Linked DNA regions of Homo sapiens: region 1 is linked to region 2. The links come from fine-mapping of genetic effects on plasma protein levels. Region 2 holds a variant in brackets. A gene starts in the other region. All regions are shown on their reverse strands.

Region 1 (2,861 bases), not on the chromosome of region 2:
CAGCCAGCCAGTGCATTAAAGATTTAAACCGAAGCCCACCGTACTGACCTCCTGACTCTGCCGCCGCTGTCGCCATTCGAGCCGAGCGCCCCTCCCCACACGGGCTCTGTTCCGTACTGACAGGGCGTCCCTCCCTGGAAGGGTGCCCTTCCACGTCAAAGCCCCTCATCAGTGTCAGGCCTCCTGTTACTATCAATGGCTGTCTCCCCCAATCCCAACCCCCAAAAACCCATACTGTGAGTCGCCTATATGAAGAGAACTAAATAATCCTGCCTGTTACTCCCTTCCTCGGAGCGAGGACTTTGCCAGCTGTCTGAAGAATCTTCTCTGCTGGGAGTATATCTAAAACATTTTAAGCAGAGGTGTAGGATGCAGGCTGTAAATGGTAAGAGGGGGAGATTCCTAGAAGCTGCCTGCCACAGAGGAGCGACTTGGGTTGGCGACCTTTCCTACAGTTCATACCCCAACTTTTGGCTCCTCCAGTCTGATCCCAAGTTTAGAGATCCTTGGCATCAGCCTACCTAGAAGTTCTTGCTCCCTCCCTAGGAGAGTCCAAGGGCCACTGCTCTTTGCCGCCCCCTTCTGTCACCCAATCAGCCTGGGACCCACTAACTCCTCAAGTGGTGAGAATCAGGGACTGCTATGTGGGCCTGCCTTCAGTTAGGGACTGGACCCAGCACCAGAAAGGGCACCACAAGATTAAGTTAAAGAAAGAGATGGCCCAGTTTCTGGCTGGGGCCAAAGCTACAGCAGATTGTGGCTGGGGAGAAGACTTGGTCTTAAAGGGGAGAGATGGGTGCACACCCAAAAGCATTTGTTTTCTGCCTTCCGAAGACTTCTGGACCGACAAGCCCAGGGAAGACCAGAAAGTATGTAGCGCACAGCCAAGTGATGAAGAAGGTCTATGACAAGCCCGAGGAACCTGGGAGATTTCCTTGGGATTTCCTCAGTGGCTACACCCAACAAGCCTTGGGACACAAGAGAAAGGCCTAAGCCCTATCCCAAGAGAAAGCCTACTCCATAGAGAGTGGCTGACCCTACAGCAGACGACTGCAACAAGATAAGGGCTGGATTACTGTGTTATGACTTGGTTTATGTTTCAAATATAGAGCAGGACTTGCAGATTGAGATCCCTGGACCAGGAGTGGGAAATTCTTAAAGGAGCCAGGGGCACTGAACTTGGCAGCATACCCCCACCCTAGGCAGCTCCCAGCTTCCTGGAAAGGACTGGATAAAGATGAATAGGAGCTTTGCATTGCAGGGAGGGGGTAAAGAACGGAGTGACAGCTGGGTATGGGATTAGGAGAGAAGCGGCTATAGCTGGAGGGTGGGATGCAGGGGGTATAGCAGTTGGACATGAGGGTGTGACTGAACCCGGGTAGGGAGAGGGGATGTTCCTCCAGGCCCAGGAAGGAGGCTGGAATTTGAGTAAAACAAAGATGTAATTGAGTGCTTGAGTCCAATGTCTTCAACAAGTCAGGGACTGGATCTGGAGACCCTAGGCCCCTGCTGGCAAGAGGTTGGCATTCCTGGAACAGGACTAGACAAAAACAGGAAGGTAAGATTCACTGGGCCTTTTACCTGTTTTGACAACAGTAACCTAGCACCAAAGAGCTTTTATCTTCCCTCCTTATCTACCCCACCTTTCCTCCCTGTCTCATCATCCTGGGGAAAGCTGCCCCACCTCAGCATCTCCAAAACACCCTTAATATTACCATAAAGGGCCTTCCCCCAGCTTCTCTGAATGGGGCTGGCCTCAGCCAAGAACCCTCCTCAGCCAGAAGGGCCTGCTCTAGGGACCCATTCCCATCCATTTCTTCTGATAAGACAGGCAGGCCAAGCCAGGAAGTGGGGAGGAGAAGGTGAAGGCAAGTTGGTGCTTGCCTGCCCTCTGCTCCCACCCCACCCACAACTCCCCTGTCAGAATCTGTGTGTGCTAGTGTGAATTTGCTTGTGATTGGATGACTGTGAAAACACAATTGGGTGGGAGAGGGACTTTGAGTATAACCGGGGCTATATAATTTTGTCTACGGTTGTCTGATCATGAGTATGACTTTGTGAGGTTGACCAAGTGATTGAGGAGTGACTTTGAATGTGTGGCTATGCGTATTTGAGTGTGAATGTCTATCATTAGATGCTGCTGTGGATGCTTGACTGCCCTTACTCACTGTTCCATCAGTCCCTACATCACACACTAATCCTTCCCCCAGCTTCACTGCCCAGAGCTTAGGAGCACATGGGAAATGGCTATCCTAGATGAGGAAGGAGTCTGTGGCAACAGGCCGAGAATTAGGGCCCAGGAGTGTCACAGGTTACACAGTACATCTCCAACTGCCTCTGACTCACCTAGTGCCCCAGGTAAAAGGCACCCAGATAAAAGGTAGGGGAGGAGGAGAGAGAGAGAAGGAAGAGTCTAGGCTGAGCAACATGAAGGGGCCCCCAACCTTCTGCAGCCTCCTGCTGCTGTCATTGCTCCTGAGCCCAGACCCTACAGCAGGTGAGTACTTGGGGGTATAGAAAGCTGGGGGTCTGGGTGAATGGGATGAAGTTGAAAAGACCCAGGAAATCCAACCTAACCTCCAGCTGTCTGGCAGAGAGGTTCTTGGTCAGGATCCCTCTGAACACATGGCCCTGTTGCCCCTAGCATTCCTACTGCCACCCAGCACTGCCTGCTGTACTCAGCTCTACCGAAAGCCACTCTCAGACAAGCTACTGAGGAAGGTCATCCAGGTGGAACTGCAGGAGGCTGACGGGGACTGTCACCTCCAGGCTTTCGTGTGAGCTCCCACCCCTGATACCCCTGACTCTGACCTCAGTCCCAACCCCTAATGCTGATCCCAACCCCAGCCCTAACTGCTAAT
Region 2 (2,905 bases):
CTGAGGGCTCTGAGGAAGTCGCACACACACAGTCGGAAAGTCCACATCTGCTCACCTGGTCCTTTGGTGATTTAACTTCACGTGTATAAAAATGATACCTGGTGGATGGATGTGTTACACCTTAGGCTAGAATCTCATCTTTTTCTCTCTCAGAAGAAATTAATTCCTTTTCTGAGTTCTAATTTTTATTTATTTATTTATTTACTTATTATTTTTGAGATGGAGTCTCGCTGTTGCCAGGCTGGAGTGCAGTGGCACAATCTTGGTTCACTGCAGCCTCCGCCTCCCGGGTTCAAGTGATTCTCCTGCCTCAGCCTCCCGAGTAGCTGGGACTACAGCCATACCATGCCCAGCTAAATTTTGTATTTTTAGTAGAGACGGGGTTTCACCATGTTGGCCAGGCTGGTCTCGATCTCTTGACCTCGTGATCCACTCACCTGAATTCTAATTTTTAATTGTTCCTTCTTGTCTTTCAGAGGCTTCCTCCTTGAAGAGTCTACAACAGACCTGATACCATAATTGGGCACACATCCTTCTGAAATTCCTTCTAGAAAATGATTTAATCTACTAAGAAAGCCCACATTTGAATTCATTCATTCCAAAAAGAGTCTCCATCCACTTCCTAGGTTTTGAGCTCTTTTTATGAGTCCATGGAAGCTGCCGTGGTTTTCTCTGAGTCCATGGCCATATTTTCCCTCTGGGTTCTTGTTTCTTTTAAGTCTTATACCTCTATTAGTATTAAAGATCATCAGCTGTGCTTGAGTGTGGTTAAATATTCACTTTCACTTAGACTTCTGACCTAGACACTAACAGCCAACCTTGCTAGATTCATCTAAGTAAAGGGAATGCAACAGGAAAAAAAGCCAATAATTTTTGGTTTCCAGAGTGAAAGAAAAATACTGGGCTGGACATCATGAATCACACCTGTAATCCCAACACTTTGGGAGGCCAAGGCGGACAGATCACTTGAGCCCAGGAGTTTGAGACTAGCTGAACATGGCTAAACCCCATCTCTACAAAAAACACAAAATCTAGTTGGGTGTGGTGGTGTGCACCTGTAGTCCCAGCTGCTCAGGAGGCTGAGGAGGGAGGATTGCTTGAGCCAGAGAGGTGGAGGTTGCAGTGAGCTGAGATCACACCACTGCACTCCAGCCTGGTGACAGAGTGAGATCCTGTCAAGAAATAAATAAACAAACAATATTGGGCCAGGTGCGGTGGCTCACGCCTGTAATCCCAGCACTTTGGGAGGCTGCAGAGGGCGGATCATGAGGCCGGGAGTTTGAGACCAGCCTGGCCAACGTGGTGAAACCCCATCTCTACTAAAAATACAACAATTTAGCCAGGCATGGTGGCGCGTGCCTGTAGTACCAGCTATGTAGGAGGCTGAGGCAGGAGAATCGCTTGAACCCAGGAGGCAGAGATTGCAGTGAGCTGAGATCGCACCACTGCACTCCGGCCTGGGTGACAGAGCGAGACTCCATCTCAAAAACAAACAAACGAACACCAATATAGATTTCTTATATTGGCATCCTGCTAAATACTCTTCACATTCTCTGTTCCCACGTGAAGCCTGGGACTTTGAAGGCATTGCTACTGCTCTGAATTGAAAGCTTCCACTTACAGCTTTCTGCTGGAAAGATCCCCGCCAGCTGCCACCCTT[A/G]GCTGGGAATGGGAGCCTGCTCCTCTGGGTTCAGTGCACCAGCCCTGGATCCGCACTTCCCAGCCCTTCGCTGGCGGTTCAAGACTGTGGTTTTCAGGCTGCTGCAGTGGTGGTCGGCGTCTTCCAGTCACAGCTTGTGATCGGAATCTCTGTCCCTACACTACTTCTGGGTGTACACACCTTCTTCCCTGGGTCTGGAAACCTCTCTCTTGGCTTCGGAGGAATTCACTAGGCACCCACAACCCACCCTCAGTGTCATTAGTCATCACTTGTCACGCAAGTTCTTTGAACGCTGTTAGTGCCAGCTTTTTCTCTCAAGGATCCTTGGCTTCAAACACATTTAAATACCCTCTCCCCTTCATGCCTCTCATTTTCCAAAGCCTTCTTCCCAGGATAGCCCTCTCCTTTGAGTCCCACCTTCAAGATCTTCGCATAATTGAACTTAAAAAATTCCCTCTTTCAGAACACCTTGCTGAATAGACTAGACTAGGCTTCTTTTTATGATTTGAGTATTACAACAATTGAGTGCCTTCCTTTCTGGAAAAGGCTAACAAAGCGAGTTTTTCTAAGGAAAGAAGAGAATGAAAATCGCGTTCTAAACTTTTGTGCACTTCTGATTGCTTGCTTGTGAATCACAGGGAAGCCGTGCAGAGATGGGAAGCCCAACCTCCCTTGCCTGTATCTGGTGACAGGTTCTGTAACAGTTGTCAAAGTGGGGGGAAAAAAACGACAATCGTACAACTCAAGCAAAATACGCTGCTTCACAAATTGTAAAGTCCAAGGACACTGTCAACAGGTCAAATACTGCCCTGCTTGTTTCTATTACAAAAAACTTTTACATACTAAGAGATGATTCCAATTTAAAGCACATTTCTAACTTCTCTGAGCATTTTTTTCTTTAAACATCATTTGTGTTAATTTCATCCCCAATGCACAGATAGAACAGAAGCCAGGTGTGGTGGCTCATGCCTGTAATCCCAGTACTTAGGGTGGCTGAGGCGGGCAGATCACTTCAGGTCAGGAGTTTGAGACCCAGCCTGGCCAACATGGTGAAAGCCCGTCTCCACTAAAAAATACAAAAATTAGCCGGGCGTGGTGGCACATGCCTACAATCCCAGCTTCTCAGGAGGCTGAGGTAGGAGAACCACTGGAACCCCGGAGGCAGAGGTTGCAGTGAGCCGAGATCACGCCAGTGCACTCCAGCCTGGGCAGCAGAGCGAGACTCCAGCCTCAACACCCCCGACA

Which allele goes with the higher level. Positions count from the first base shown, and alleles are read on the strand shown. Strength reflects both the effect of a copy and how common the allele is.
In carriers of allele G in region 2, the plasma level of the protein whose gene starts at base 2,404 in region 1 tends to be lower than with A alone (strong association).

What was found. PIP is the chance, under the fine-mapping model, that this variant and not a neighbour inherited with it causes the effect. The UK Biobank Pharma Proteomics Project read protein levels with antibody pairs (Olink). The fine-mapping took linkage between variants from a reference panel, not from the people measured, so its PIPs are less certain.
Region 1: CCL27 starts here. The variant in region 2 is fine-mapped to the plasma level of the CCL27 protein (UK Biobank, PIP above 0.99).

The regions. Positions count from the first base shown.
Region 1 is chr9:34,662,200-34,665,060 of GRCh38, reverse strand. It overlaps CCL27 (C-C motif chemokine ligand 27), which reads left to right and starts at 2,404. Exons shown (of 3, transcript NM_006664.4): 1 at 2,404-2,497; 2 at 2,645-2,777. The coding sequence starts at 2,428. It overlaps LOC730098, which reads left to right. Exons shown (of 3, transcript NM_001320038.2): 3 at 1-898. The coding sequence ends at 27.
Region 2 is chr22:46,158,894-46,161,798 of GRCh38, reverse strand. The region is part of intron 2 of PPARA (peroxisome proliferator activated receptor alpha); the gene reads right to left. LOC105373074 (a long non-coding RNA gene) reads left to right here. Exons shown (of 2, transcript XR_938315.3): 2 at 477-757. Among named protein-coding and RNA genes, the nearest start is that of PPARA, 9.8 kb to the right of the region's middle. The variant A/G (reference allele first, on the strand shown) is at 1,661.